Linked DNA regions of Homo sapiens. The protein of the gene in region 7 purifies or fractionates together with the protein of the main gene of each other region. This does not show direct contact. Each region holds a gene or a part of one and is shown on either strand. Other genes may lie near its edges. The genes, in order: POLR3E, PLIN3, ANKMY2, MYO6, CRCP, POLR3H and RPRD1A.

Region 1 (4,501 bases), on a different chromosome or scaffold from region 7:
AGAGTGAAAGCAACACCGGCACGTGCTGCTCACTGCTGAGGCCAGACGACGGGCAGGTGGGAATTCGTGAATCCATTCGCTCTCCTTATCTGGTTGTGTGAGCTTCCTCACAAGATGCTGGAAAAGGGAGCCAGGCAGCCATGGCCCGCTCTTATCTTTATGTGAATGGCTCACACAGCAATGCGCTCAACACGCAGGGGCTCCTGTCCACATCTGTCCTCACAGTACACTGTCCCTCTCTCTCTCAGGTGAAGGAGTCAAAGTCTGGACCCCTCCTCAAAAGCTCTGCCTGGTCTCATGACAGCCTGTAGAATGAGCCTGGTGGAGGTATGGCAGTGCGGAAAATAGGCCCTTTCAGATCAGCTACATTCTAGCGCAAGGAGACGGTCATTTCCTAAAAGCTCACTCACACAGCAAAGCCGTGACTCCTCCCTGCTTCCTGGGCTGGGGCTGGGGGCAGTTCTGAGATCACCTGACTGGGGGTGGGAAGGCTGAAGGGCGCAGGTTCTGAAATCACAGGCCTGGCTTCCAGTCCTCATCCTTCCCCTTGCTAACTGTGGACTCAGGCAGGCACCTCGCCTCCCTGAGGCTAAGCATCCTCACCTCCCAAGGCCGCTGTGAGCACGGAGGAGGCAAACAGAGCCGATGGTGGCTCAGGGTTTGGAACTCTGGACACACGGGGGTCACTGGCACCTCCACCATCACTTTGCAGCCAGTCAAGGAAACAGGGTGAGCAGGCACACAGGACAGGCCCCATTCCCACGGCCCATAAGGGTGAACCCCAGGGAGTGGAGGCCAGGCCCTCCCAGCACAGGCTTACAACATTGCTGCTGTGGCATGCCCCAGGCCTCCGTGCCCGTGAAGGCCTCCCTGTGCCTCACGTTCTCATGTGCATCATGGGATATGAACACTGACTCTAACTGTGGGAAGGCAACATGGGGCAGAGCAGCCCAGCAGTGCCTCAAAAAGCTAAACGCAGACCCAGCAATTCTGCTACCAGGCATATACCTAGAAGAAATGAGAATTCACGTTCATCATAAAAACTTCTATGTGAATGTCCACAGTGGCATTATTTATAATAGCCAAAAAGTAGAAATAACCCAAATACCCATCAGCTGATGAATGGATAAACAAACTGTGGTCTCCCATACAATGGAACATTATTCATCAGTAAAAGATCAAATATTGGCTGGGAGCGGTGGCTCACACCTGTAATCCCAGCACTATGGGAGGCCGAGGCAGGCAGATCACAAGGTCAGGAGTTCGAGACCAGGCTGGCCAACATAGTGAAACCCCATCTCTACTAAAAATACAAAAATTAGCCGGGCTTGTGGCGCGTGCCTGTAGTCCCAACTACTCAGGATGCTGAGGCAGAATCACTTGAGCCTGGGAGGCAGAGGTTGTGGTGAGCCGCAATCAAGCCACTGCACTCCAGCCTGGGCAACAGAGCAAGACTGTGTCTCAAAACAAACAAACAAAAAAAAGAAAAGCTCAAATATTGATGCAGGCTATAGCTACCATGTGGATGAGCCCTGAAAACATCATGCAAAGTGAGAGCAGCCAATCACAGCAGGCCACATACTGCATGATTCCAGCTATGTGAAAAGTCCGGAATAGGCAAAACCATAAACAGAAAATAAGGGGAATGGTTGCCTGGGGTTGGAGGTGGGAATGGGGGGCACAGACTGATCGCTAATAGGCAAGGGGTTCCTTTAAAGGGGGACAAAACTGTCCCAAAACAGACTGTGGCGCTGGTTGCACAGCCCCATGAGTAGACTAAAATCCATTGCATTACACACTGAAATGGGGAAACTGTGTGGTGTGTAAATTCTATCTCAATATATCGGTTATAAAATGTAATAATCACCACCATAGGGTTATTGTGGGGTTAAAGAGGTAACTGAGGTAAATGCTTTCAACAGTCTGCATACGGTCAATGCTCAATACATGTTGGCCACAATGACAAGCTGCTGGCCCAGCAGCAAGGGGAGGGGGCAGAGGTAGCAACCCGGGGCCCTCGCAGCTGGCAGGACTGAGGGCTCACAGACGCTGCCATGGAGCTGCCCCTTGGAGCCTCCATGACAACAGCGGCCATCATCACTGGCACCAACTCTCTGCCAGGCGGCATCCTAAACACTTCACTGTGGACTCAGCCTGTCCTCCTGGGGACCTATGAGGCAGGCATTATCACCATCACCACTTTGCAAGTGAGGAAAGTGAGGCACAGAAGGATTAAGAAACTTGCCCACGGTCTCGCAGCTATGGTGTGATGGAGTTGGATCTCAATCCGGTCTGACCCCAGAGCCCCAGCTTTAACTGCTGCACACTTCTGCCTCTCCTGTGTTCCTTCAGTTTTCCCATCTTTGAAATGAGACCAATATTAACCCACCCACGAAAGCAAAGAGACCCCATGACACTCTCCACACCGAGAACCCTAGCTGAGGTTTCCCATCGTTTCCTGCCCGTGTTCCTGAGTCCACACCACCCACCCACACCTGCTTCTCCCCTCTTTACCTTCAAGTCCCATAATTACCTGAAATAGATACAGCTTTTCCGCCAGACTCTTGGCCAAGTACACATCGATCTGGGAAGAAGGGAAGACGACTTAACCGGGAGACTGGACACAGTGCTGACCTCCCCGGGCTATGCCAGCGCTTCCAGCTTCAGTTAAGGGCAGTGGCTCAGGGAAGCAGTTTGGGGAAGGAGGAAATAGCTCAGCTCATGCTAAAAGCAAGCGGATCCAAGGCTGCACACTGGGTATATTCAGGAATCCCTCCTGAAAGCTCCCAGGGGAACCAGGGCAAGAGTTCACCTGGTACCCCCACCCAAGTTCACAATCCCCCAGTAAGCACACATCTTCCCTGGGGCTGCACTGATCGGGAAACGTCCTACAGCCTGGGCAAATGCTCTTCTGAGAGGCAGGCAGGCGAGGGCTCACCTAGGCCTGTGCCTCCTGGCTGGGCCCTCCACCTGCCCCTCCTGGACCAGCCTGTCACCCCTTCTTAAGGGGTCTGCAAGGCCCTTTGTGACTGATGGCTCCACTTCCTTTCTTCCCAACACTAACCACCCCCACCCCGCCACGCAGCAGTTTACCTTCCTGCTTCCTAACTCCTCCTATAAACCACATGCTCTCCTACCCCTGGGCCTTTGCACATGCTTTTCCCTATACCTACAGAGCCCTTCACACATGCCTCCCCTGAGCCTTGACTGCTCGCTCCTCCAAGGACTTGGCTGAGGCACAACTTGGGCAGGAAGCATTCCAGGCCCCCTGGCTGCAGAGGGCACTGCCTCTGTCCTCGGAGTCCCTTGGACTCTTCTATCCCATCACCAACCCCCCTGTTGTAACTCCTGCTACTGCAGTGTAGATGCAGCTTAAATGCATCTAAATAACTCACATCTAATAACTTAGCAACATCCCCCAAGCAAGGAAAAACCACCTCTATTCATCTCCGAGGACCTTCTCCTTGCCCCTGCCCTTCCCACTGGAGGTCAGGCTCCGCATATAAGGAGGCTGAAGGCAGATGCAGTTACTTTTTGCCTTTTGCCTTCCAAAGGTCTAAGTCCTGGGTTAAAAGGATTCTGAAAGGTGAGTTTGACTATCAACAGCTTTCTCTAAGAAGGGAAACCTGTGCCGGCCATGGTGGCTCATGCCTGTAATCTCTGCACTTTGGGAGGCCCAAGGTGGGTGATCACTTGAGGTCAGGAGATCGAGACCAGCCTGGCTATCATGGTGAAATCCCATCTCTACTAAAAATACAAAAATTAGCCAGGTGTAGTGGCGGGCGCCCGTAATCCCAGCTACTCAGGAGGCTGAGGCACAAGAATCGTTTGAACCCAGAGGCAGAGACTGCGGTGAGCCAAGATAACACTACTGCACTCCAGCCTGGGAGACAGAGTGAGACTCCGCCTCAAAAAAAAAAAAAAAAAAAAAATTAGTCGGGCGTGGTGATGGGCACCTGTGATCCCAGCTACTCAGGAGGCTGAGGCAGGAGAATCGCTTGAACCTGGGAGGTGAAGGTTGCAGTGAGCCGAGATGGCACCACTGAACTCCAGCCTGGGCAACAGAGCAAGACTCTGTCTCCAAAAAAAAAAAAAAAAAAGGGAAATCTGCCTCCCACTGCCTGTACCCGGAGACTCCTGCCTCATCAGTCTTGCCCACAGCCCATTAGCTTCCCAGGGAAGGGGACCCTGCCCTGCTCACTGATGTGTCACAGCCCCCAGCACACAGTGGTCCAGTGAACAGCTGCTGAATGACTACATCTGCGTAAGCCTGGGAAGGAGGGACTGCTGAGCCCATTTATTCATTCATTCATTCACCAAATAGTCGCCGGGTACCTGGGTGCCAGGCACTATACTCGGCTTTGCGGCACAGCAGTGGACGGGAAAGAAAGCAATCAACTGATATCTAGGGGATGACGGGGGCTAGGCCAAGTATGAGTTACCGCCAAGGTAAGGGCAGAGAGAGGCACGGGAGGGTGCAGGAGGGGAGCTGGGTGTGGAA
Region 2 (4,501 bases), on a different chromosome or scaffold from region 7:
CACAGAGGGAAGGGACGACCACGTGAATACACAGAGAGAAGATGGCTGTCTACGAGTCAAGGAGAGAGGCCCCAGAAGGACACTCTGATCTTGGACTTCCAGCCTCCAGAAATGTGAGAAAATAAATATCTGTTGTTTACATTTCCCAGACAGTACGAATTTTTTTTTTTTTTTTTTGAGATGGAGTCTCACTCTTGTCACCCAGGCTGGAGAGCAGTAGCATGATCTCGGCTCACTGCAATCTCTGCCGCCCGGGTTCAAGCGATTCTCCTGCCTCAGCCTCCTGAGTAGCTGGGATTACAGGTGCCTGCCATTGTACCTGGCTAATTTTTGTATTTTTAGTAGAGATGGGGTTTCACCATGTTGGCCAGGCTGGTCTTGAACTCCTGACCTCGTGATCCACCCGCCTCAGCCTCCCAAAGTGCTGGGATTACAGGCATGAGCCACCGCACCTGGCCACGATTTTTTTTTTTTTTTTGAGATGGGGTCTTGCTCTGTTGACTAGGCTGCAGTGCAGTGGCACAATCATAGCTCACTGCAGCCTCCAACTCCTGGGCTCAAGCAATCGTCCCACCTCAGCCTCCCAAGTAGCTGAGATTACAGGCACGCACCACCACAGCCAGCTAATTGTTTTAAATTATTTTTTGTAGAGATGGGGTCTTGCTATATTGCCCAGGTGGGTCTCAAACCCCTGGACTCATGCGATCCTCCTGCCTTGGGCTCCCAAAGCACTTGAGGGACTCACACAAAGAGGTGTGAGCCACTGTGCCCGGCCCCAGACAGTGTGGTTTGTGGCAGCATCCTGAGCAAATGAGTGTACAACCAGATACAGTGCCAGGAGCAAGCGGGAATGGCCCTGCCAGCCTGCAGAGGGGTGAGCAATAAGCCACTGAGCTCTGGGTGGGTGTCTGCTGCGGGGTGAAGGCTGCTGGCTCAGGGCCCCGACCCCCTGGAACCTCACCAGGCTTAGGACCTGCGACAGCTGCAGCAGAGCCTCCTGTGCCCTCTGCTTGGTGGCTCGAAGCTTGCCCAGCGAGTGCTCATAGGCGTGCTGCCGCAGCCTCTCCGACAGGGAGCCCAGACGTACGAAGTAGCTCTGTTCCTGCCGCTGCTGCTGCACGGACGCGACGTCAAAGCCATCCAGGGATGTGGCGATGCGGGCTGCAAGGAAAAGGAGAAGGGTCTCTGTGAAGACCAGAACACACAGCTGGGCTCGTCCCATGCAGACAGTCCCAAGAATCACACTGTCCAGTTTATTTATTTATTTATTTAGAGATGGAGTCTCGCTCTGTCGCCCAGGTTGGAGTGCAGTGGTGTCATCTCGGCTCACTGCAACCTCTGCCTCCCGGGTTCAAGTGATTATCCTGCCTCAGCCTCCCGAGTAACTGAGATTACAGGCGCCCGCCACCATGCCCAGCTAATTTTTGTATTTTTAGTAGAGACGGGGTTTCACCATGTTGGCCAGGCTGGTCTCGAACTCCTGATCTCCAGTGATTCATCCGAACTGGCCTCCAAAAGTGCTGTGATTATAGGCGTGAGCCACCACACCTGGCCATGCTGTCCAGTTTATAACCCAGTTCTACTTCTTATAAACCTCGAAGGCCTGGGAGCAAAGGATTCTGCCTTGGTTTTCCCTATCTGCAAAACGGGGATAAGGAAAATTAAACCTCACAGGAATCAGAGACCTTAGACTAGCAGGAGGGTCTCAAGCTATGGCCTGCAGGCCAGACCTGCCTTGGACAACCTGTGAATATAGGCCTGAATGTTCATTATGCAGTCCTGCAGAGAATAACAGCATTCCAGCCAGCAATACATCACATATACTACAGAGGTCCCATAAGATTATAATACCGTAGGCCGGGTGCAGTGGCTCATGCCAGTAATGCCAGCCCTTTGGGAGGCCAAGGCGGGCAGATCACTTGAGGTCAGGAGTTCAAGACTAGCCTGGCCAACATGGCACTACCCCATCTCTACTAAAAATACAAAAATTAGCCAGGCGTGATGGCACTAGCCTGTAATCTCAGCTACTTAGGAGGCTGAGGCAGGAGAATCGCTTGAACCCGGGAGGTGGAGGCTGCAGTGAGCCAAGATCACACCACTGCACTCCAGCCTGGGTGAGAGTGAGACTCCGTCTCAAAAAAAAAAGAGAATAATGACATTTCAGCCAACAATGGACTGCATATACTACAGTGGTCCCATAAGATTATAATACCATATATACCGTATTTTTCCTGTACTTTTTCTTCTTTTTTTTAGACAGGGTCTCGGTCTGTTGCCCAGGCTGGAGTACAGTGGCACGACCTCAGCTTACTGCAGGCTCAACCTCCCAGCTTCAAGCTATCCTTCAACCTTGGCCTCCCGAGTAGCTGGGACTACATAAAGCTGGGACTACGGCAAGACACCTGGCTAATTTTTGTACTTTTTGTAGGAATGGGGTCTCACTATGTTGCCCAGGCTGGTCTTGAAATCCTGGACTCAAGCAATCTGCTCGCCTCAGACTCCCAAAGTGCTAGGTTTACAGGTGTGAGCCATTGCACCTGGCTTCCTGTACCTTTTCTATGTTTAGATCTGTTTGTTTTGTCGGTTTTTATATTTTGAAGTACAGTCTCGCTCTGTTGCCCAGGCTGGAGTGCAGCGGTGCAATCATAGCTCACTGTAGCCTTGAACTCCCAGGCTCAAGTGATCCTCCTGTCTCAGCTCCCAAATAGCAACTGGGACTACAGGCGTGCACTAGCACACCCAGCTAATTTTTAAATTTTTTGTAGAGATGGGGTCTATGTTGTCCAGGCTGGTCTGGAACTACTGGGCTTAACTAATCCTCCCACCAAAGTGCTGGGATGACAGGTGTGAGCCACCACGCCTGGCCTCATCCCATGTTCGTAGGTTCATATGTGTATATGCATGTATTTATTTACTTATTTATTTATTTATTTATTTTTTTGAGACAGAGTCTCACTCTGTTGCCCAGGCTGGAGTGCAATGGCATGATCTCGGCTCACTGCAACCTCCGCCTCCCGGGTTCAAGTGATTCTCCTGCCTTAGCCTCCTGAGTAGCTGGGATTACAGGAATGTGCCACCATGCTTGGCTAATTTTTGTATTTTTAGTAGAGATGGGGTTTCACCATGTTGGCCAGGCTGGTCTCAAACTCCTGACCATGTGATCCAGCTGCCTCAGCCTCCGAAAGTGCTGGGATTACAGGCATGAGTCACCACACCTGGCCTTTATTTTTTTTGAGATGGAGTTTCACTCTTGTTGCCTGGGCTGGAGTGCAATGGCGCAGTCTTGGCTCACCACAAGCTCTGCCTCCCAGATTCAAGCCATTCTCTTGCCTCAGCCTCCCGAGTTAGCTGGGATTACAGGGATGCGCCACCATGCCTGGCTAATTTTGTATTTTTAGTAGAGATAGGGTTTCTTTATGTTGGTCAGGCTTGTCTCGAACTCCCGACCTCAACCTCCACCCGCCTCAGCCTCCCAAAGTACTGGGATTACAGCCATGAGCCACTGCGCCCAGCTGCATGTATTTATTTAATCCTGCTCCTACTGTACCCATGCTTTTTTTTTTTTGAGATGGAGTCTCACTCTGTCGCCCAGGCTGGAGTGCAGCGGCCCAATCTTGGCTCACTGCAACCTCTGCCTCCCAAGTAGCTGGGATTACAGACGCCTGCCACCGCACCTGGCTAATGTTTATTTTATTATTATTATTTTTTTGAGACGGCGTCTAGCTCTATTGCCCAGGCTGGAGTGGAGTGGCATGATCTCGGCTCACTGCAAGCTCCGCCTCCCAGGTTCATGCCATTCTCCTGCCTCAGTCTCCCGAGTAGCTGGGACTACAGGCACCCGCCACCACGCCCGGCTAATTTTTTTTTTTTTTTTTTTTTTTTTTTTAGTAGAGATGGGGTTTCACTGTGTTAGCCAGGATGGTCTCGATCTCCTGAACCTGTGATCCGCCCGGCCTTGGCCTCCCAAAGTGCTGGGATTACAGGCGTGACCCACCGTGCCCGGCCTAATTTTTGTATTTTTAGTAGAGACCGGGTTTCACCATGTTGGCCAGGCTTGTCTCAAACTCTTGACTTCAGGTGATCTGCCCACCTCGGCCCACCAAAGTGCTGGGATTACAGGCTGAGCCACCGCGCCCTGCCTATATCCTAAGCTACTTATTTGCAAAAATCCCAATCCCCGCACTTTGGGGGGCTAAAGCAGTAGGATCACTCCAGCCAAGGAGTTCTGGATCAGCTGGGATGACAGAGGGAGACCCCGTCTTTACCAAAAATTAAATAAAGAAAAATTAGTTGGGCGTGATGGTGTGTGCTTGTAGTCCCAGCTACTCGGAGGCTGAGATGGGAGGCTCGCCTCAACCCAGGAGTTGGAGGCTGCATTGAGCTATGATCGCACCACTGCACTTCAGCCTGGGCAAGAGAGTGAGACTCTATCTCTAAAACAAATAAATAAAAAAGGGCCGGGCATGGTGGCTCACACCTGTAATCCCAGTACTTGGGGAGG
Region 3 (4,501 bases), on a different chromosome or scaffold from region 7:
TGTACCTTTGCTATTGCCATGACAACATGCTCAGCCTAGCCTGCTAGTACAAGAAGGATGAGAGTCACATGGAGCACAACTGCCCCAGCTGAGAACAGCCAACCACAACTGTGAGAGAAAGACTAAATGATTATCATTTTAAGCACTGAGTTTGAGTGTGTTTTTATAAGCAGTAATAATTAACCAATATAAATAGTTTGATTTAATTCTGGAATTTCATTTAATTCAGGAAACAGGTTCAGAGAAGTAAGTCATTAAACAAGATGAAGCTGAAGAAGTAGGTCACAGCAGATTATAATGGGTTTCATACAACATGCTGGAGAATTTCAACCTTAAAGTCAACAGGCAGTTGATGCTACCTATGGGATTAAGTGAATGTACGGACACATGCATGTGTCCAGTATCTGGATATGAGAACAACACAATCAGATATGCCTTTTACAAAGATAATTCTGGCAGAAGGGGGCAGTACAGTCCATAGGGATTAAAGACTGGTAACAGTCAGAAACTATAGTTTTACAAGGATATGTTGATGAAGACACTGTCATTAAAGTCAACATCAGAAGAGTAAAGAATGTATATTTATGAACTGTCCTATTCTAGGTTTCACATCTGCACCAGCCTTGGTCTCGTGCCCCACGGAAAACCTTTCTCTTATTTTCTCATATTCATTCATTCATATCCTTTCTTTCCATGAGGTGATCAGCAAAGAGGCAAAGGAAGACTGGCAGTTTAGCAGAAGACAGACACAGTAAAGAACTATATTGATCCTATTAATTCTTTTCCAAAACTACTTTTTAAGTATTAAATAGAATATTTTCGTTACTAGAATTTATTAGAAAACTAATGTCCACTCTTACAGAATATTAAAACTCAATCATCAGCTTGGCTGCATCTAAACCAGAGGTCAATGAAATAAAAAGAACTCCATTCTTACCATTTTGCAAACTGAACATCTTTTACTTGCTCCCTTTTCTCCACAGGTAGTGCAAAATTCCACATCCACAAAACCCACCTGGCCAGTGATGGCTTGGGTAAGGACGGAGAATGCAGTGGGATCAGAACCCTAGAGTGGGCATGAAGAGGAGAAAAAACAAATTCTGAAATCACCATGGAAACACTACAGAGGTATCAGCCCACGGACACTGCCGTCCTACAATGTGACACAAAAAGGAAGAAATCATTAAGGCTATAGATTACACAGGCTTTAAGACAAAATGACAAAAATCTTTTAGAATATACCATTTTCTGTACAAAACATATGAAAAGTCAGTCATATGTCCAGATAATTAAAGAGAAAAAAACACCCTTAATCTAGAAAAAAAGTATTTTTCCAATAAGGATAATTCAGTAAGCCCATAGCGTTTCAGATTTAGGACAATAACTCCAGAGCAGAATTTTTTTCTGAGAACTGACATCCAGAAAATATTCATATTCCATGAGACAATTATAGGGCACATCAAAAATGTTTAACTGTCTTAATTCTGAAAAGTTTAGTACAATCTAAGTATTTTAAAGACAATATATTTAAACTCATTTACTTGATGTTGGCTTGTAATTCAAATAAATTATCACCATTATAATTGGTATGTTCCAAATTTGTTAAGAAACACACATGCAGCAATTGAATCAAAGTATTAAGAAAAACCAAATGTGTGAAACTTACTACTAGTGGGCAATGGAAAATTAAAATAGGTTAAAAAATATTTATAATTTTTATCTATTTTTATTTTTTTGAGATGGAGTCTCTGTCACCCGGCTGGAGGTGCAGTGGCTCGATCTTGGCTCACTGCAACCTCCGCCTCCCAGGTTCAAGCAATTCTCCTGCCTCAGCCTCCTCAGTAGCTGGGATTGCAGGCGCCCGCCACTACGCCCAGCTAATTTTTTGTACTTTTTTTTTTTTTTTTTTTTTTTTTTGAGACGGAGCCTCGCTCTGTCGCCCAGGCTAGAGTGCAGTGGTGTGATCTCTGCTCACTGCAAGCTTTGCTTCCTGGCTTCATGCCATTCTCCTGCCTCAGCCTCCCAACTAGCTGGGACTACAGGCACCCGCCACCACGCCCGGCTAATTTTTTTGTATTTTTAGTAGAGATGGGGTTTCACCGTGTCAGCCAGGATGGTCTTGATCTCCTGACCTTGTGATCTGCCTGCCTTGGCCTCCCAAAGTGCTGGGATTACAGGTGTGAGCCACCACACCTGGCCAATATTTTGTAATTTTAGTAGAGACAGGATTTCACCATGTTGGCCAGGCTGGTCTCAAACTCCTGACCTCGTGGTTCGCCCGCCTTGGCTTCCCAAAGTGCTGGGACTACAGGCATGAGCCACCGCGCCTGGCCTATAAACTTTTTTTACAAAGAAAATTATAAGGGGCTGGGTGTGGTGGCTAGCGCCTGTAATCCCAGTACTGTGCGAGGCCAAGGCAGGCAGATCATTTGAGGTTAGGAGTTTGAGAGCAGCCTGACCAACTTGGTGAAGCCCCGACTCTACTGAAAATACAAAAATTAGCCAGGCATGGTGGCACGCCTGTAGTCCCAGCTACTTGGGAGGCTGAGGCAGAAGGATCACCTGAGTCCGGGAGGCAGAGGTTGCAGTAAGCCGAGATCGTGTCACTACACTCCAGCCTTGGTGACAGTGCAAGACCTTGTATTTAAAAAAAAAAAAATTATAAGGGTAAGCATTTATCTGTCTGAGACGATGCTACTAAAACCTATTTAGCAAAAAATAATCACAGCGTTTCTATTTTTCTTACCTACTCCTAATAGTTCTTTGTTCTGAGTTTTTCAAATTTGTTCATTTGTTCCAAACCAGCATTTTGACACTCTTTATAATTTTCATTTTCATTTGAGTATTTGCTTTTTCTTCCTAAGAATATTTGTTTTTATATTATCTTACCAACTGTACATAATAGAGGTTTAAAAATATCACCTGGTAACAATGTCCTACACTGTTCTGTATACTCAAGATAGTCAAAGAAAATATTCAAAGATTCAAGAAGTATTTTAAAAGTAGCACTCATTTTGAAACTACCATGTTCTTCTTGAATACAAATAATAATGACTGGGTCTGCTTTCACATGAAAGTGCTACGAATTCTCTTTTGTGCTGAGCCTTGAGACAGGCAGAAGCCAGAGTTCCACAGCAGCAGAGGGAACCAAAAGCTGAGCAGGAGGGCCCAGGCATTAGCACTGTCAGAAAACAACACAGTGAAGCTCACAGCAGCCAGCCCTGAGAACCATCGTATGCGGGGAAAAGGTTGGGCATCACTTCAGAGGGTTAGAACTTGCAGAATATGAAAACCAATTAGGCAGTAAACAATGGCTGTGATACGCACAATCACAGGCATTTGGGATGAAGTCTTCCAGACAGAAGAACATAAAACTCTCAAAGAACAAAAATGTTTAAAGAAAAGTCTTTCTAAAATGCATTAAATACTATCTTAACTTTATTATAAACCTTTTCTTGATGACTCAGATCACTGGGATAAACATTAATCATTATACTCTAGGCCGGGTACGGTGGCTCACGCCTGTAATCTCAGCACTTTGGGAGGCCAAGGCGGGCAGATCACTTGAGGTCAGGAGTTCAAGATCAGCCTGGCCAACATGGTGAAAACCCGTCTTTACTAAAAATGCAGAAACATTAGTCGGGCATGGTGGTGTGTGCCTGTAGTCCCAGCTACTCGGGAGGCTGAGACATGAGAATCGCTTGAACCCGGAAGACTGAGGTTGTAATGAGCTGAGATTGCGCCACTGCACTCCAGCCTGGGTAACAAAACAAGACCCCCCTCAATAAATAAATAAAAATAATAATAATTATACTCTATAAACTCTAATTACATTATTCTATTATATGGAGCTAGGATAACTTGTTGACCACAATATTGACCTGCTTTTTTTTTTTTTTTTTTTTTTTAAAGAACTCTGGGTTGCTGTTTTAGTTTTTCTGTTTTTTCCCAGGAAGGTAAAAGGTCAGCAACCATTTGTGAGTGCTGGAAATCCCACATAACAGGTACTGCTAGTTGCTTCTCTGATATCAATTCTCCCAGCTTCCTCAGTAACAGAAGTGTAATTTTGTTCAGAGGAGGAGTGTTTAGAAAAGCCAAAAAAAAAAATTTTCCTGGACTCCTGTGTAGCTAAGGAAAGTCATGTGACACAGGCAGAGGGCTTCTGGGAGAGCTTATGTTTTCCAGATATAGACCCCTTTGCTCTTCCTGCCTGCCTGGGATAGGAATGTGAGCTGGAGGAGGAACATCAAATGCCTCGTAACCATGAGATCATAAGTATGCATATGAGAACCTACACAGCTAAGGAATATTGGAAGGGAAAGATGAGAAAGTGTTTGGGTCCCCAAACTATTTTTAAGTCACTATGCCAGACCTAGTCTGCCTACCTTTGGGCATCTATGTATATGTGAATACATAAACCCTCATCTATTTAATTCATGGTTGGTTGGGCTTTGATATGTGCTGCCAAGACACATTTGTAATTGACAAATCATAATTTGCT
Region 4 (3,500 bases), on a different chromosome or scaffold from region 7:
GCATAAAAGAGAATGTAAGGTAAAGTAAAAACAAGTAAAATTATACTGTAAAAATAACAGTAACTAACTGAATTTGTTAATGTGGAGGTATTAAGAGGTTTTTGGTGGTTTCTCCAATTTTTTTTTTTTTTTAGCCAGGGGTCTCACTGTCACCCAGGCTGGAGTGCAGTGGTGCAATCTCTGTTCACTGCAACCTCCATCTCCTAGGCTCAAGCAATCCTCTAACCTCAGCTTCCTTGGGACCTCAGGCTCATACCACCATGCCCAAATAATTTTTTGTATTTTTGGTGGAGACAGGTTTTGGCCATGTTGATCAGGTTGGTCTCTAACTCCTGAGCTCAGGTGATCCCTGCGCCTGGGCCTCCCAAAGTGCTGGGATTACAGGTGTGAGCCATCACATCTGGCCTCCAAATTTTTTATAGTATTATATTACTTTTATCATTTATTTATTTATTTTTAGACGTAGTCTCACTCTGTCGCTGAGGCAGGAGTGCAGTGGCACAATCTTGGCTCACTGCAACCTCTGCCTCCTGGGTTCAAGCAATTCTCCTGCCTCAAGTAGCTGGAACTACAGGCGCGTGCGATCACACCTGGCTAACTTTGGTATTTTCAGTAGAGACGGCGATTCACTATGTTGGCTGGGCTGGTCTCAACCTCCTGACCTCAAATAATCCGCCCACCTCGGCCTCCCAAAGTGCTGGGATTACAGGCAGGAGCCACCATGCCCCACCACTTTTATTTTTATTTATTTATTTTTTTTGAGACGGAGTCTTGCTCTGTCACCCAGGCTGGAGTGCAGTGGCGCGATCTCGGCTCACTGCAAGCTCCGCCCCCCCGGTTCACTCCATTCTCCTGCCTCAGCCTCCCAAGTAGCTGGGGCTACAGGTGCCCCCCATCACGCCTGGCTAATTTTTTTTTTTTGTATTTTTAGTAGAGACAAGGTTTCACCATGTTAGCCAGGATGGTCTCAATCTCCTGACCTTGTGATCCGCCTGCCTCGGCCTCCCAAAGTGCTGGGATTACAGGCGTGACCCACCGTGCCCGGCCATTTTCTTTTTGCTCCAACTTTAGTTTTCTTTTTTCATTTTTTTTTTTTTTTGAGATGGAGTCTCACTCTGTCACCAGGCTGGAGTGCAGTGGCACAATCTTGGCTCACTGCAATCTCCGCCTCCCAGGTTCAAGCGATTCTCCTGCCTCAGCCTCCCAAGCAGCTGGAATTACAGGTGCACGCCACCACACCCAGCTAGTTTTGTATTTTTAGTAGAGACAGGGTTTCACCATGTTGGCCATGATGGTCTCGATCTCCTGACCTCATGATCCGTCCGCCTCAGCATCCCAAAGTGCTGGGATTACAGGCATGAGCCACCATGTATGGCCTCCAACTTTTATTTTAATTTCAGGGATGCACGTGCAGGATGTGCAGGTTTGTTACACAGGTAAACGTGTGCCATGGTGGGTTTGATGCACAGATCATCCCATCACCTAGGTATTAAGTTGCGAGGGATATCTTTCTTAGCAACAGAAGAAATGGCATAAAAATTGTCTTCTTTAACTTTTTGCTATGAAATTTTTCAAACATAAAGAGTAGAGGTAATAATGATGAGCATGTACTTGCCATCATTGAGTCTCAACACATTTTGTAATTTTGAAAAACTAAGGACGTTTTCTATACAATTTCAATACCAATAACAAAATATATTAAATTACATAAAAAGTCAAAGTCATTCGGGTTGAAATTACATACCTTAATTTTGGCCATCAAAGTATCAATAGAAATTTCCAGATTCTTGATCTGTTTATTCATCTCGGGTTTTCCATCTTTCAACACACTGACTACCTCATTAAATTTATCAAGTCGTTTTTTCAGTGTGCCCACCTTAACCAGACCATCAATGCTGTAAAAATAATACTTCATTAGAGCTTAATTTCATCCTTTAGTACTTTTGGCAGATTTTTCATTTATAAAATGCTAAACAGGGTATTTCACTTCTGTTTTCAATATTATCTACTATTCTCTTTTTCAGATCTCTTGTTGAAGGCTAAAAAAAATCAAATATGAGTGTGAATGACACTGATGCCTGTCAATGGGATTAAAGCCTTCTACAACTTTGAGAATTCAAATCACAGAGGAAATTAATCTAGTCTCTTTGAAAAGGTGTGATGGATCAATAGAGATATTCAGACTTCCAATTTTTAAAAGTGTAAATTAAAAATGAAAGATTCAAATAAGAAATACACTAATTTATAATGGGACAATGTAATTCCTACAGATAATCTTGAAAATTATGTAAACATATTAGTGAGATGTTTTTTAAAAAATGTCACCTTGACATTATCAAGAAACTCAAATAACTAAAATAATCAGAATAAAAGAGCTTCTCTCAACTACTTACTTCTTGTTTTATAGTCTTTACACATTTTTGTATGCCACTTCAAATCCTTTTATAGAATGAGGCAAGTAATAAGGTAATAAATGAATTAACTAACTTCAAATAAATATTACAAATAAAAGACTAATACATCATTTTACAAAGAACATGAGAAAACCTGAGTATCCAAACTGCTTTTTATTATGACTTTATTGTCATTTTGTATTACAGTAACTAGGTTTTGTAGAGTTCTTTTTAGGAACTATTCATCTTACCGAGGTTTGTGTCTCCTCTTGCAAAGCCACATTCGAATAGTTTTTTGCATTTTAATGCAGGCTTCAGCTCGATATTTTATTTTGTTTTTCACTATGTGTAAGAGTAAAATAAAATGATAGAAAATTATTCAGTTTAAATCTAACATATATTAAAAAAACTCATTTTCACAAAGTAATGCTCAAGAAACATGAAATCTTGACGACCATATTATTATATATCAGACATCAAAAACAAAGTTTTAACACCTTTTTTGTTTGTTTTTGTTTTGACAGTCTCAACCCAGGCTGGAGTGCAATGGCATGATCTTGGCTCATTGCAACCTCCACCTCCCAGGTTCAAGAGATTCTCGGCCGGGCGCGGTGGCTCACGCCTGTAATCCCAGCACTTCGGGAGGCCAAGGCGGGCGGATCGTAGGGTCGGGAGATTGAGACCATCCTGGCTAACACGGTGAAACCCCGTCTCTACTAAAAATACAAAAAATTAGCCAGGCATGGTGGCGGGCGCCTGTAATCCCAGCTATGGGAGGCTGAGGCAGGAGAATGGCGTGAACCCGGGAGGCGGAGCTTGCGGTGAGCTGAGATCGTGCCACTGCACTCCGGCCTGGGTGACACAGCAAGACTCCATCTCAAAAAAAAAAAAAAGAGATTCTCATGCCTCAGCCTCCTGAGTAGGTGAGGTGGGACTACAGGCACACACCATGCTGGGCTAATTTGTGTATTTTTATTCGAGCCAGGGTTTTGCCATGTCGGCCAGGCTGGTCTTGAATTCCTGACCTCAAGTGATCCTCCCACCTCAGCCTCCCAAAGTGCTAGGATTACAGGCGTGAGCCACCACGCCCAGCCAGTTTTAACATTT
Region 5 (4,501 bases), on a different chromosome or scaffold from region 7:
AGGCAGAGGTTGTAGTAAGCCAAGATCGTGCCACTGCACTCCAGCCTGGGTGACAGAGTAAGACCCACTCTCTTTGGGGAAAAAAAAGGTGGGGGTGAGGGATAATGTAGTCATTGTCATTTATCCTAGTGATCCAAGACGTGCTAGTAAGTTTTTTATTTCTGAAAGTTTCTTTTTTGTTTATATTTCATTTAGTTTAATGCAGCTTAGGGTTTCTTCCTGTGACTGGGAACCTTAGGTTGAAAAAAAAGGTCTTGACTGTAATTAAGGAGGATTGGATGTTGATAAAAGCTCCGGCCGTTAGTGAACTTAGCAAAATTCTTTTCTGCACATTATTTTCTCAAACGGAGATCATCTTTTCTCCAGGTTAAATAATCAAATCTTGGCTATTTCCCTCCTTTCCCTGCTTTATTCTTTGGGCGCAATCATCACTTACTGCAGTCTCAAACTCCTGGGCTCAAGCAATCCTCCTGCCTCAGCCTTCCAAGTAGCTGGGACTATAGCTATGTGCCACCATGTCCAGCTAATTATTTTTTATTATTTTTTGTAGAGATGGGGTTGCCCAGGCTGGTCTTGAACTCCTGGGCTCAAGTGATCCTCTCACATCACCCTCTCAAAGTGCTGGGGTTATAGACATGAATCACTGTGTCCGGCCTTTCACCTTTTCTTTCCAACACAGGAGAAACAGTCCAAATAAAGAAGTAAAGTTCAAAGCACCATCTCAAGGTTCTCAGATACCAACCATTTCAGGTAGTTGAGAACATAAGGGGAAATAAAACTTAAAAATCCAAAGTATCAACAGCTGGGTTAACATAAATGATACATTTATTATCTCAATCCCAGGAGCATCAAACCGGGTTGCCGACCTCCAAAAATGGCAACTTGAAGTCGCCAAACCTAAAGTCCTACTTTCCTCAAAATGATTCAAAGATCTGATAGCAACAATGTATACTATTAAATATTTGATCCAGAACAGTTCACTGAATCTGGCTTTCTAAATTTCAACTTTCTCTAATGTAAAATGAAAGTAACGCCTACAGCGAGGACAAAAGGAGAACACATGTAACAGTGTTTTACAAGCAATAACGCTCTATATGAGTCAAGACTTCATAATCACGAAATCACTAACAGGCCTAGATGGTAGTGCTGTTCAGGGCAGTGGCCTGTGAGGTCACAGGATTCACTGACCTCAGGCCGGAGGGCTCACAAATCATTCCAAATCAATACACAACCGGGCACAACAAGTCCTAAGCTGGGTGGCCACCTCATTTCCTCACCGAGCCTCTGAGTCAGCAGGCAGTCATCAGAGGGCCACAGCAAATCACAGCCCAGGCGTAACTGAAGAGGTGAGGCTTCAGCCTCCAAAAGACACCTGGCTTCCAAGTGAATGCTAATAAATGTTGGATGCTGGGACTGTTTTCTGAACCCAGGGAGAAAAAATGGCTCTAGTGTTAATATAGGGAACTTCTCACTCAAGTCCTTTGTGCTTGCCACTGTAAGTGAAACCTTTTATTTCCTTTTGTTTTCTAGAGAAGGAGTTTCGCTCTTGTCGCCCAGGCTGGAGTGCAGTCACGCTCACTACACTTCGCTCACTACAACTTCCGCCTCCCAGGTTCAAGCGATTCTCCTGCCTCAGCCTCCCAAGTAGCTGGGATTACAGGTGCCCGCCACCATGCCCAGCTAATTTCTGTATTTTTAGTAGGGATGAGGTTTCGCCATGTTGGCCAAGCTGGTCACAAACTCCTGACCTCAGGTGATCCACCCACCTCGGTCTCTTAAAGTACTGGGATTACAGGCGTGAGCCACCGTGCCCAGCCATTTGCTTTTTTTTTTTTAAAAGACAGGTTCTTGCTCAGTCACACAGGCTGGAGTACAGTGGCACTATCATAGCTCACTGCAGCCTTGAACTTCTGGGCTCAAACAATCCTCTCACCTTAGTCTCCTGAGTAGCTGGGACCACAGGTGTGCGCCACCATACCTGGCTAATTTTTTTCATTTTTTGTAGAGATGGGGTCTTACTATGTTGCCCAGGCTGGTTTTGAATTCCTGGCCTCAAGCAATCCTCCCACCTTGGCCTCCCAAAGTGCTGGGATCACAGGCGCAAGCCACCATGTTCGGCCACAGCTTTCATTTCTTATTCACTCTGGTGAGAAGCGATACTGCTACAAACCTTGGTAAACAATTTGCTACCTTTTGTAGCCAAATTCCAGAGTGGGAAGAATCTGGCTATAAAATGGTCCAACTACTGAGAAACAGCAGTTTCTACCAAGGCCTACCTACTTTGTAGAAACGAGAAGGAAACCATCTCAGGGGATGCCACACACATCTTTCTTCTCATCAAGCACAAGTACCTGGCTTGGAGGAGCAAAGTAAAGCTTCTGAATCAGAAGGTCCCAATCAGCCACTCACCAGCCCTCTGGGCTAAAATGGAGAGGACACTTGCCCCCTTCCAAGACTATGGGGCGGGCATTCGAAGTGACAGACAATCACAGGCACCAGGACCAAGGACTGAGACCGTGTCTGGCACACCCCATGCACTCTTTTTTTTTTTTTTTCCCAAGATGGAGTCTCACTCTGTCACCCAGGCTGGAGTGCAGTGGTGCAATCCTGGCTCACTGCAACCTTGGCCTCCCGGGTTCAAGTGATTCTGCCTCAGCCTCCCAAGTAGCTGGGATTACAGGTGTGCACCATCATGCCCAGCTAATTTCTGTACTTTTAGTAGAGATGGGGTTTTACCACTTTAGCCAGGCTGGTCTTGAACTCCTGACCTCAGGTGATCTGCCCACCTTGGCCTCTCAAAGTGCTGGCATTACAGGCATGAGCCACCGCGCCCGGCCCACCCCAGGCACTCTCAATAGCAGCAAATCTTCCCCCAAGTAATGATACCACTTTCCACAGGCTCTGGCTGAGGTCACACTAATCCTCATCTCTTCTCTCTGCCTGTCATTAAGCCATGAGTAACATATGTTGCTGATTAAAGCTGGAGGAGACATGACATATGATCTTTAACCCAGAGGGACAGGGATTCGTTTCTTGCTGTTCTGTTTGTTTTTTCTCTCCTCTAAGCTCTAGGTTGAAACTCCAATACAGTGTAAAGCATGAAAATAATCAGGACACATGAGAAAGGGGTTTCTATTTAGCCTACAGGCGGGTTCCCAGAGAAAGGCACCCTTCATGAAAGGAACTGTTCTAATTTAATTTTGGGTACATTCTGAAGGGCAAAAACAACCCTAGGAAGACAATGAACAATTTAGTAAAAAATTAAATACCCTGTGGCCTTTTAAAAAGTTTTTCCATTAGCAACTCTAAAAATCGTATTTTTGACCATTTTCTTCCATACTTTTCTAAAGGAAATTTGACAAAGAGCTAAGTATTTCTAAAACTGACTTTGGAAACTGCTTTATTCTCATTTTGTTAATTCTCTAAAGTTTCTTCTTCTTTTTTTTTTTTAAACTGGCAATTAGACGGCCTGCTTAACACTTGTCAGGTACCGATGCTCTCTGCCCTGTAATAAGAAGGCAGCGGCCACAGCGTGCCCAGTGGTGGCCCGGGTATCTCCCTGGATCATTTCCCGGGCCCCTTATCCCATCGTAGGCCCCTCTACTCTGGCTGCCTCCTCCTATTCCAAAGCCTACGCTCTCAGTACAAAGCGGACTTCACAAGTGATGAGGCTGTACTAAATAAACGGTTTATGCAGGGAAATGGGATCACATTCATGGTTTTAGATGTGATCTCTGACGGTGATGTGGGAGATGGACTTGGGGAGCCAGGGAGAATGGGGAGAGGATAACCGCAAGAGCCGCGTGAAGAAATAATGGCAGAAATCAACGCAGTACACGGGGGAGAGAAGCAAGAACGAAGACAGAAGCAACAGAACTTGGGGACTCCCTGACTGTGAGATGAAAGGAAGAGAATGGCTTGCAGGTTTCCGGCGTGGGAGGCCAGGCCAGGAGATGAGCAAGGAAGGGAGCTGATGGGACAGCGCACACATGCTCCCCTCACCCAGAAAGAGAGGAAGCAAGAGCAGGGTGAAGGGTGGGCGTGGGGACAGAGAATGTTCACCAGAGACATGCTGAATTTCATGTTTTTTATGCAACATCTGGTTGGCAACAACGCCTACAGGGAAGCAATGGCCAGAATGGCCTGGACATCAGGGGAGTCGGAGAGCCGCCAAGTCATCAGCCAAAACCCTAGAGGAGGAATGAAATCTCCTCCAGTGTTTTGTGGTCCCTAAGTCCACACTAACTAGGATCAAACTGGCAAGGTCTCTTTTTCCTTAAGAAATGGAGTGGTTGGGCAGCCTCTTAAAAAAAACGCAGTTCCTGGCTTGTCCACCACAGCCATTCTACATCTCAGACCCACAGCAGCCTCCCCAGCACAGGCGCCCTTCACTCACCAGCTGGATCTCCACAGCAGTCACAGGCCGGTGGTTCAGCAGCTGGAGCTTCTCAGCTCTGTGGAGGGAAAGTACAGCGTTGACAACTCGCATAGCCCTAAGTCC
Region 6 (4,501 bases), on a different chromosome or scaffold from region 7:
AAGTTCCAGTTTGGAGGAACTATAGGAATGGAGGAATACAGTGACTGGCACCACAGGCCTCCAGGGGTTATGGTAAGTAGGCAGATATGAGCAGGGCAGGAGAGGGCCCCCTCCCACCAGGAACAACACCCTCATCAGCTAAGCCATCACCACTATCTAATTCCACAATTTTTTTTTTTTTTTTTTTTTGACAGAGTTTCACTCTTGTTGCCCAGGCTGGAGTGCAATGGCGCAGTCTCAGCTCACTGTAACCTCTGCCTCCTGGTTTCAAGCAATTCTCATGCCTCAGCCTCCCAAGTAGCTGGGATTATAGGCACCCAATACCACGCCTGGCTAATTTTTGTATTTTTTTAGTAGAGACGGGGTTTCACTATGTCGGCCAGGATGGTCTTGAACTGCTGACCTCAGGTGATCCGCCCGCCTCGACCTCCCAAAGTGCTGGGATTACAGACTTGAGCCACCGTGCGCGGGGCCATTCCACAGCGTTTTTATCACCCTACAAAGAAACCCCGCCCAGTAGCAGTCACTGCTAATCCTGTCCTTCACCCAGCCTCTGGCAGCCACTTAACTGCTTTCTGTCTCTATGGATGTGGTTCTGGACACTGTACATGAATGGAGTCGCACACTGTGTGGCTTTTGTGTCTGGCTGCTTTCACTTGGCCCCATGTGAAGGTTCAGCCCGAGGTTGAGCCACACTGTAGTGCATGTCAGAATTCCTTCCTTTGTAAGGCTGCATAATATTCCATTGTGTGTCTCCAGCATGTTTTGTTTACTCATCCATCCATGGGGGACTCCGGGTGCCCAGCATTTGCTTTTGGATGTGGTTGTTCCAGCCTGGGGCTCCCTGGGCGCAGGATCATGTGCTGTCCCACCCCCGTGAGCCCAGTGCCCAGACTGGGCCTGGCACAAACCTGGTGCAGGCTCTGTGAAGTTTTTTTTTTTTTTGAGACGGAGTCTTGCTCTGTTGCCCAGGCTGGAGCGCAGTGGCATGATCTTGGCGTACTGCAACCTCCACCTCCTGGTTCAAGTGATTCTCCTGCCTCAGCCTCCTGAGTGGCTGGGATCATAGGCACCTGGTACCACACCCGGCTAATTTTTGTATTTTGGTAGAGACGGTGTTTTATCATGTTGGCCAGGCTGGTCTCAAACTCCTGACCTCAGGTGATCTGCCCACCTCGGCCTCCCAAAGTGCCGAGATTACAGACTTGAGCCACCCCGCCCGGCCTCTGTGAGGATTTATTAAACCAAACTGAATGTTGGGCCATGTGGGGGACAGGGTTTTTCCATCTGTGCGTAAGTGGCCCTTGGCCGCCCTCATCTGCTCTCTGGGAGGTCAGCACAAGGCCCAGTCATCTTCATGGTGGCTGTGATGGCTCACGTTTGTGTCTTCCCAGGGTGAGAGGTCCATCGGCTGCCTCTCCTCATGCCCTGCTGATGCCAGGGTCCCTGCCGTCCTGGGGGGCATGTTGGCCGACTAAATGGTTGACGGCATCGTGGAAGCCTGTGTTTGGGATTAAACCTGTCTGAGGAAGGCAAGATTCGACCCGGTGGCCCTGTCTGGTGGGTACAGAAAGACCAGGTGTCTCCCCATGGCTATGTGGCTGTGAGTGGGTCACCCTGGCTCTGAGCCACTGCCTTATCCTCACGGTGGGAACTCTGTTGGTAACCAGCAGGGGGCAGCCGCGTGCTGATTCTCAGGTCAGCGTTGGACTCCTACTTTGGGGCTTCGAGCAAGGGCCTGAGTGACAAGGTGACATACAGCTAATGCCAGGGCCTGGGGTCAGAGTGTGCGATGTGGGCACAGACCCCACCTGGTGTTTTCCTTGCAGTCAGGTGAGTGGGGACCACCTGCAGCATGGCCTGAGAACCCACAGAGGCATTTTTGCTGGGCTGCTGGCCTGCGCCTCACAACACCAGGGCATTTTTAGCCTCCTCTCCAGGTCAGAGCTGTGCCTGGGGCCGACTTTGCTGCTCAGCAGGAGGTGGGAGTTTCCAAACCCTGCGTTCTTTACCAGTTGCTTCTGCCCTTTTTAGGAGCTGAAGGAGAGCCTGGAGGGAGGTTGAAATTGACTTTGGAGCCACTGATGGCTCAGAATCTGGGCTCAGGTGTGAGTAACCTGGCAGTTTTGGGAGTGCCCAGTTACAGGACAGCTGCTGCTGCCCCCCTGTGGGGGCCATGCTGTGAACTTGCAGGAGACAAAGGGAGGGTCTAGGCTTGCAGGGGGATGTGGCATGGAGCAGCCACACAGGCCCCCAGGTGTGCTGGCACCTGAGGGTGACATGGGAGCGCACTGGGGCCCCGGTCAGCATCACTGATGGGCTGTCTTCATTTCCAGTCCATTTTCGCTGCGTGGTGTTTCATCCATTCCTAGATGAGATTCTCATTGGGAAGATCAAAGGCTGCAGCCCAGAAGGAGTGCACGGTAACAGTGGCCCTGACGCCTCAGACAAGACTTGGGAACACTGTGGGGGCAGGAGGTCTGTGTCCACCCACATGGTCAGGGGAGGGCTCAGGTGTCGAGGCCGAACCTTCCCCGTGGTGTCAGAGAAGCTTGCCCACCCTCCCTTTTATGTGTTGTGTGAGGACCTCCATCAGCAGTGCGGTTTCACTGTGAGGCCGTCACTCAGGACTTCAGGGTGGGCACTGAAGCTGGCGGAAGTGACTGGGAGTCTTTAGCGCCCACTGGCCCCTGTTGTGTGCAGAGGTTTTGGGGACTAGGTGCTCCGGGCTTTGCCCAGGGCTGCTCCGCTATGTGGGTGGTGTACGCAGAGGCATTAGGTGGGGAAGGGGCCTAGGTTTCCACAGCGACATCCGCCTCGTGGGCAGCCCCAGGCAGGGCTTGCCTGTCAAGCATAAGACCCCGCAGTGTTTGGCGTCCACTGGGACCCCCATCTCAGGCCGTCACCTGCTTCCTTCCTTCCAGTCTCTCTAGGCTTCTTCGATGACATTCTCATCCCCCCAGAGTCACTGCAGCAGCCAGCCAAGTTGTATCCTCCAAGGGTTAAAGTGGTTTGTCACAGGGAGCTCAGGCCTCTCCAAAGGAAGGTCCCCACTCCTTAGGGTGGCCTTTGGGGCCTGTAACCTGATGTCACTGGCCTCTGTGCCTGCCCCTCGCCTGTGCTTTTGCTCCAGAGGCACCAGCCTGTCTGTGCCTCCCATGCAGGGAGTCATGTGATGCCCACATGCCTGTCTTTGTCGGGGCCATCAGGCTTGGCTGTCTGGGTTGTACACTGCACACCATTAGAGCTGTGGTGTCCTGGGGGACACCATTCACTTCCGGTTCACTTCACTTAGGTTGTCCCTGCAGGAATCATCTTAAAGATCACTTGCCCTGGAGGCATGCACTGGTCCCTGGGACGTGAGGCCTTGCCTGTGTGCCGGGTCGTGGGCTAAGATGTGTTCCTCCTGGGCCTCCGTTGTCCCTGTCCCACCCCTCACCTTGCTGTACTGGGGTTGTCTGTTTCTGTGGGGCTATCCACAAATCTGAGGCTCCTCACTGGGAAGGACTCTGACATGTCACAGCTGTACCCACGGTGCACAGCACGGGACCTGGCACAGAGGCAGGACCCAACAGTGGGACTGCCACCAGAGAACCCATGGCTCCCCTGTGTGGGCTCTGCCAGGGACGATGGAGAGCCAAGGGGGACTGCCCTGGCTGGGTGGCAGCACGGCTCTGGGTCTGCATGTGACTCCAGGATGTGTTAGAAAACCTGGCGCAGCCCGGCTGGTTCTCTCACCACCTGTCATCCAAGTGGGCAGGTGACCTCCCATCCCACTATGTCCTCTTGAAAACGGCAAGTCCTTGGGTGCCCATCAGCCTGTCACAAGGCTTTGATGAAAAGGGTGTGTGGGGCTCCGTGGCAGGAGGCCCAGGTTGCTCTTGTCTTGAGAGGTGGGACTCGGACCCTGTCTCGTCCCCTCCTGCTCTGGTGCTCTGAGATCCATGTGCGTCTGGCCGTGGTGCCTGGCTGGGGACCCCATGTTCCCCTTCCTGGGTCCTGGCCTCCAAGAGCGCTTGTTCCTCTCTGTTTGGCCCAGGCCTTGTGCATGGGGCTGGGACCTGCTTTTCCTGTGACTTCCCAGCCACAGTGATCTCACCCTGAGATTGGTTTTTCCTGCGGGGTCGGGGAGTGGGTGCTGAGGGAAGCCCCTCCCACTATCTGGTTGCTGCCTTGACCCTGGACCCCCTCAGCGACGAAGCGGAGCAGGTGTGGGTGTGGGAGTACGAGACGGAGGAAGGAGCACACGACCTCTACATGGACACCGGCGAGGAGATCCGCTTCCGGGTGGTGGACGAGAGCTTTGTTGACACGTCCCCCACAGGGCCCAGCTCAGCAGATGCCACCACTTCCAGTGAGGAGCTGCCAAAGAAGGAGGCTCCGTACACGCTTGTGGTGAGTGGCTCTGATGGTGCTGAAGCCCCCATGAGGCGGGAGAGCCGGAGTGCAGGGCTGGAAGCTGTGTCCTGGGGCTTCTGCTCTGGGATCTCCCCCAGCAGGT
Region 7 (3,619 bases):
GTACTGTGATTCTTAACCAGGAGAGGGACGAGGGTCATGCCATCTTTTGGGTGGATACATTAGAATCATGGGGGGTAGTGTGGTATGATGGAAAAGATAGAAAATCAGATAGATTCATTATATGTATATTTTTACTAAAACCACAAAAAATAAAGTTTGATGAAATCTTGGCTCATGGTAGATGTGCAGAAGAGTAGAGAAGGGAGGGGCAAAATGATTGAGAAACGTTGTAGATTATTTATATAAACCTAAGTGGCTCATACTCTTCTCTTGGTTTTAGCTAGAATTTGTCAGTTATAAAGCCTAAATCTTTATTTGTAGCTCAGAATACTGTAATCACATTTCCAAGTGCCTACTAGAAATCCCATGGATAACTCACAGTTATCATGCTTAAAAATGAACTCTGTATCCTTCTCCAAAGGAGTTTGTGCCCCTCTCTGCTATCTCAGATAACAGCTCCGATATCCACCTGCTTATGAAGCCTGAACCCTCATTATTCCTCACAGCAGAACCACAACCAATTCCTGCTGATTTTTCTTTCTAAACATTTAGTCTTTGACATTAAGGTATTATTTACATATAATGTAGTTTTTAAAGGACATTGCTCTATCCTTACTACTGTTGGTTTGGTTCGGTTCAGGCCCTAGTCCTTTCTTTCCTGGAGAGTTGCAGTAAACTCCTAGCTGGGTTTCTTCCTTAGATGTTTCCTCATCTATGCACTCTCTAGGATGGTCCTCTCAGGACTTACCTGTGACCACATTTGGAAAGAGCGTGAATCTCCCTGCCTTGTGCCATGCACTGTGGTAATAGTGAATTGCCATGGACATATCTATTTTACTGCCTGCTACTTCCTTAGACCAAATCTTTGAGTCAGGACCCTGGAACTGAGATGGGTATAGTGGGAAGCTTTTCTCTGAGTGATACCCTGTTGTGGGTGCTGAGCTTTTGGAGAAAGGGAGGGGTGCAGCAGCCTGAGGTTGTCTTGGCTTGCCTCTTCTGCTGTGGAGCCACCTTCCTCATGAGTTGGGGGTGAGGCTTATCAGGGCCCAAGTATTCTCAGTCCTCCACGCATAAGAAGGAACTTCTTTTCCAGGAGTGGGGGCTGGACAGGAGGGAGTCCCCAGGCTCTTCCCTGCTCTATCTCAGGACTTAGCTTCAGCACCAGGTAGTTGGGGTAGGATGAGAGGCGCTCTTTCTGGGAATAAAACCCTCCCACTGGGAGTTGCAGGGAGAGTGATCCTGTATTCTTGGCTGCAGCAGTCTGGAGTGGACCCTCCTTGCTTAGATGGGAGGGCACAGGAAGGGAGCAGTCCTGCTTCAGACACCACAGACTCTGGCCATTCCTACTGAGTTTTCATAGATGTTCTTGCCAAATTTTAGTTAAGGTTTATGAAAATAAATATGTAATTTTTCTTGCCCAAACTCAAGAATACCTGAACATCTTATATGTCGAGGTTAAGCACATTAATGTTAGTCTTCTTTCTACTGGTGTGAAGCAACAGCTAAAGATTGTGGTTTTTCTTAATAATAATAGTTTACTAGTTATATATTTCCAAAGCTCATCTTTTGATGTGAAAACTCACACTGGAATAACCTTTTTAAATATGGCATTAACTGAGTATATATAGTACCTGGGTTTATGTAGGTCATTATTAGCTAGGAAGTTTTTTCAATCCCTGAATGCTAATGAAAGTGGTTTGATGTTACAGGAGTACAAGCGCAAGCTAGCCAGAGTTTCCCTGGTGCGCAAAGAACTCAGGTCCCGGATCCAGAGCCTGCCAGACTTATCTCGATTGCCCAATGTCACTGGCAGCCACATGCACCTGCCCTTTGCGGGAGACATCTACAGTGAAGATTGATGGACCAGCCTCTTTCCAGGTCCCAGGACTTTGCAAGAGATGGAGACAGGTTAGGTGGATAGTCCTGTAGTGTTATTTTTGTATATTGTTGAGAAAGAAACACTAACAAAAGGAACAACGAGTAATTTATAAAATTGTTTAAAATGTTGGTTTGTTTACTATTTTATTGGTAAATTAACATGACTTAATTTGAACAAAGTGATGATTTGTGTGTATTAATAAGCTCACAAATAGTGATTATTTTCAAAAGATCTTTTTGTAAATTTTTTTTTTGATCCAAGGCCTTGTGAGAAATCTCTTGTTTGTATTTCTTCAGGTATTTTCAATTGTTTTTCTTTATTTTCTTCAGCATTTAATCACTGTATACTATGTAATTCCTGAAGGGGAAGAACTAATTAGGAGTTGATTGAGACTTTATTATGGTATAGTTAGGACTTGATTGTAGAAGGGACTAAATGTTCCAACATAATCTTTACCCTTCTCCCCAAACAAAATATCAATTCTGTGTCTCTACATGCCTTTGATTCCTTAGAGGTCGGTAATTTAACATAAAACAGGGATGTCACTTTGAGGGGCAGATGAAAGTCTAGAGAACTGTTCCTTAATAGCATTGTAAAAGTTCCATTCCAACTGCCAGTGTAGATTTTAAAAGTGTTAAATAGTGACTCCCTTGATTAAACTGTTTGTAATTATTTGAGTAGATTAATAATGAAAATACTTTGGAAATAATATACATTTTGACATTCTACCAAGAGGACAACTTTGGTTCTGGAACTGGTTTCTATTTGTCAAATCAGTTTCCTTTTAACATAATTAATCCCTTTAACAAAAAGCCGTCTATGGGATTAAAAGACACGTGAAATGATACTTTTATTATTCCCTTGCTCATATAACTTTAAAAATAATACTTTTAGCTCTAATAGCTCAAGAACACAATATTCGTTAATGTTCAGTAAAGTAGCCTGAGACATTTTCAATGTTTCCTTAAGGTTTTTGAATGACTGTATATTTGGCAGTTAAGCAGTGCCACACTACAGGGTAGATATGGTAAATTTTATATTTGTATATTTACAGTTACAAAACAAATGTACTTTTACCTTTTATTTCTGACCCTGTGTGTTAGAGCAGTTGCATGCTCTCCTGCTGTTAAAAACACATTGTTAAGCTGTGGATTTGTACTCAATAATGACTTAGGATAAACATTTATTTTCATTCATTGCTTTACATACTAGACATTTTTCTTCTCTTTGTAAGTAGATTCAAATTAGATAGTCAATAAAACATCTTGAAAATCCCACAAGCCAATTATGTCTCTCTAGTCTGAATGGCTTCATTGTTTCTTTCTCAGTATTAGAAATTATAGTTACAATGAATTGCATATGAAGAAGGCAGACATTTATTTTTAATAGCCAAGTAGTTCTGCAAATAGTTCTTTTAACAATTTGACCTCTCTCCAAAACAGAGACACATATAAGTAGTGCTCATCCATGCACTACTAATAATACATGGCTTATTCCAAAGTTTTTAGTCAACTTTTGGGACTTGGGGTGCATTTTCTCACAGAAAGAATAGTAGTTAGGTTCCCTAACACTACCGCTGATAGCTCACCTGGGAACTGAATCCACCTAACCATGAATGTCCTTCACTTGTAACGTGGTTCACAGGTTACTAATCATAGATCCTGACCAGCATTTGTAACACTGCTCTAACTAGGACACAGCATGCAGCAGCCACACTCACACCCTGGGATGTCTGTGTAC

The links.
Region 1: the proteins of RPRD1A (region 7) and POLR3E purify together in Homo sapiens (affinity purification with mass spectrometry, with the first as the bait; one large-scale study listed by BioGRID). This does not show direct contact.
Region 2: the proteins of RPRD1A (region 7) and PLIN3 fractionate together in Homo sapiens (co-fractionation; one large-scale study listed by BioGRID). This does not show direct contact.
Region 3: the proteins of RPRD1A (region 7) and ANKMY2 fractionate together in Homo sapiens (co-fractionation; one large-scale study listed by BioGRID). This does not show direct contact.
Region 4: the proteins of RPRD1A (region 7) and MYO6 fractionate together in Homo sapiens (co-fractionation; one large-scale study listed by BioGRID). This does not show direct contact.
Region 5: the proteins of RPRD1A (region 7) and CRCP purify together in Homo sapiens (affinity purification with mass spectrometry, with the first as the bait; one large-scale study listed by BioGRID). This does not show direct contact.
Region 6: the proteins of RPRD1A (region 7) and POLR3H purify together in Homo sapiens (affinity purification with mass spectrometry, with the first as the bait; one large-scale study listed by BioGRID). This does not show direct contact.

What each region holds. Positions count from the first base shown.
Region 1 is NC_000016.10:22,303,239-22,307,739, reverse strand, and holds part of POLR3E (DNA-directed RNA polymerase III subunit RPC5), read right to left. Parts: intron 2,585-4,501; coding exon 2,534-2,584; intron 1-2,533. UniProt on the Homo sapiens protein: DNA-dependent RNA polymerase catalyzes the transcription of DNA into RNA using the four ribonucleoside triphosphates as substrates.
Region 2 is NC_000019.10:4,846,730-4,851,230, forward strand, and holds part of PLIN3 (perilipin-3), read right to left. Parts: intron 1,162-4,501; coding exon 962-1,161; intron 1-961. UniProt on the Homo sapiens protein: Structural component of lipid droplets, which is required for the formation and maintenance of lipid storage droplets. Required for the transport of mannose 6-phosphate receptors (MPR) from endosomes to the trans-Golgi network.
Region 3 is NC_000007.14:16,603,784-16,608,284, forward strand, and holds part of ANKMY2 (ankyrin repeat and MYND domain-containing protein 2), read right to left. Parts: intron 1,129-4,501; exon of another isoform or gene 1,067-1,128; coding exon 938-1,066; intron 1-937. UniProt on the Homo sapiens protein: May be involved in the trafficking of signaling proteins to the cilia.
Region 4 is NC_000006.12:75,885,239-75,888,738, reverse strand, and holds part of MYO6 (unconventional myosin-VI), read right to left. Parts: intron 2,736-3,500; coding exon 2,645-2,735; intron 1,896-2,644; coding exon 1,745-1,895; intron 1-1,744. UniProt on the Homo sapiens protein: Myosins are actin-based motor molecules with ATPase activity. Unconventional myosins serve in intracellular movements. Myosin 6 is a reverse-direction motor protein that moves towards the minus-end of actin filaments.
Region 5 is NC_000007.14:66,145,396-66,149,896, reverse strand, and holds part of CRCP (DNA-directed RNA polymerase III subunit RPC9), read right to left. Parts: intron 4,455-4,501; coding exon 4,397-4,454; intron 1-4,396. UniProt on the Homo sapiens protein: DNA-dependent RNA polymerase catalyzes the transcription of DNA into RNA using the four ribonucleoside triphosphates as substrates.
Region 6 is NC_000022.11:41,530,581-41,535,081, reverse strand, and holds part of POLR3H (DNA-directed RNA polymerase III subunit RPC8), read left to right. Parts: intron 1-1,394; exon of another isoform or gene 1,395-2,108; intron 2,109-2,336; coding exon 2,337-2,423; coding exon of another isoform or gene 2,424-2,478; intron 2,479-2,924; coding exon 2,925-2,988; intron 2,989-4,193; coding exon 4,194-4,395; intron 4,396-4,501.
Region 7 is NC_000018.10:35,991,391-35,995,009, reverse strand, and holds part of RPRD1A (regulation of nuclear pre-mRNA domain-containing protein 1A), read left to right. Parts: intron 1-1,709; coding exon 1,710-1,859; 3' UTR 1,860-3,619. UniProt on the Homo sapiens protein: Interacts with phosphorylated C-terminal heptapeptide repeat domain (CTD) of the largest RNA polymerase II subunit POLR2A, and participates in dephosphorylation of the CTD by RPAP2.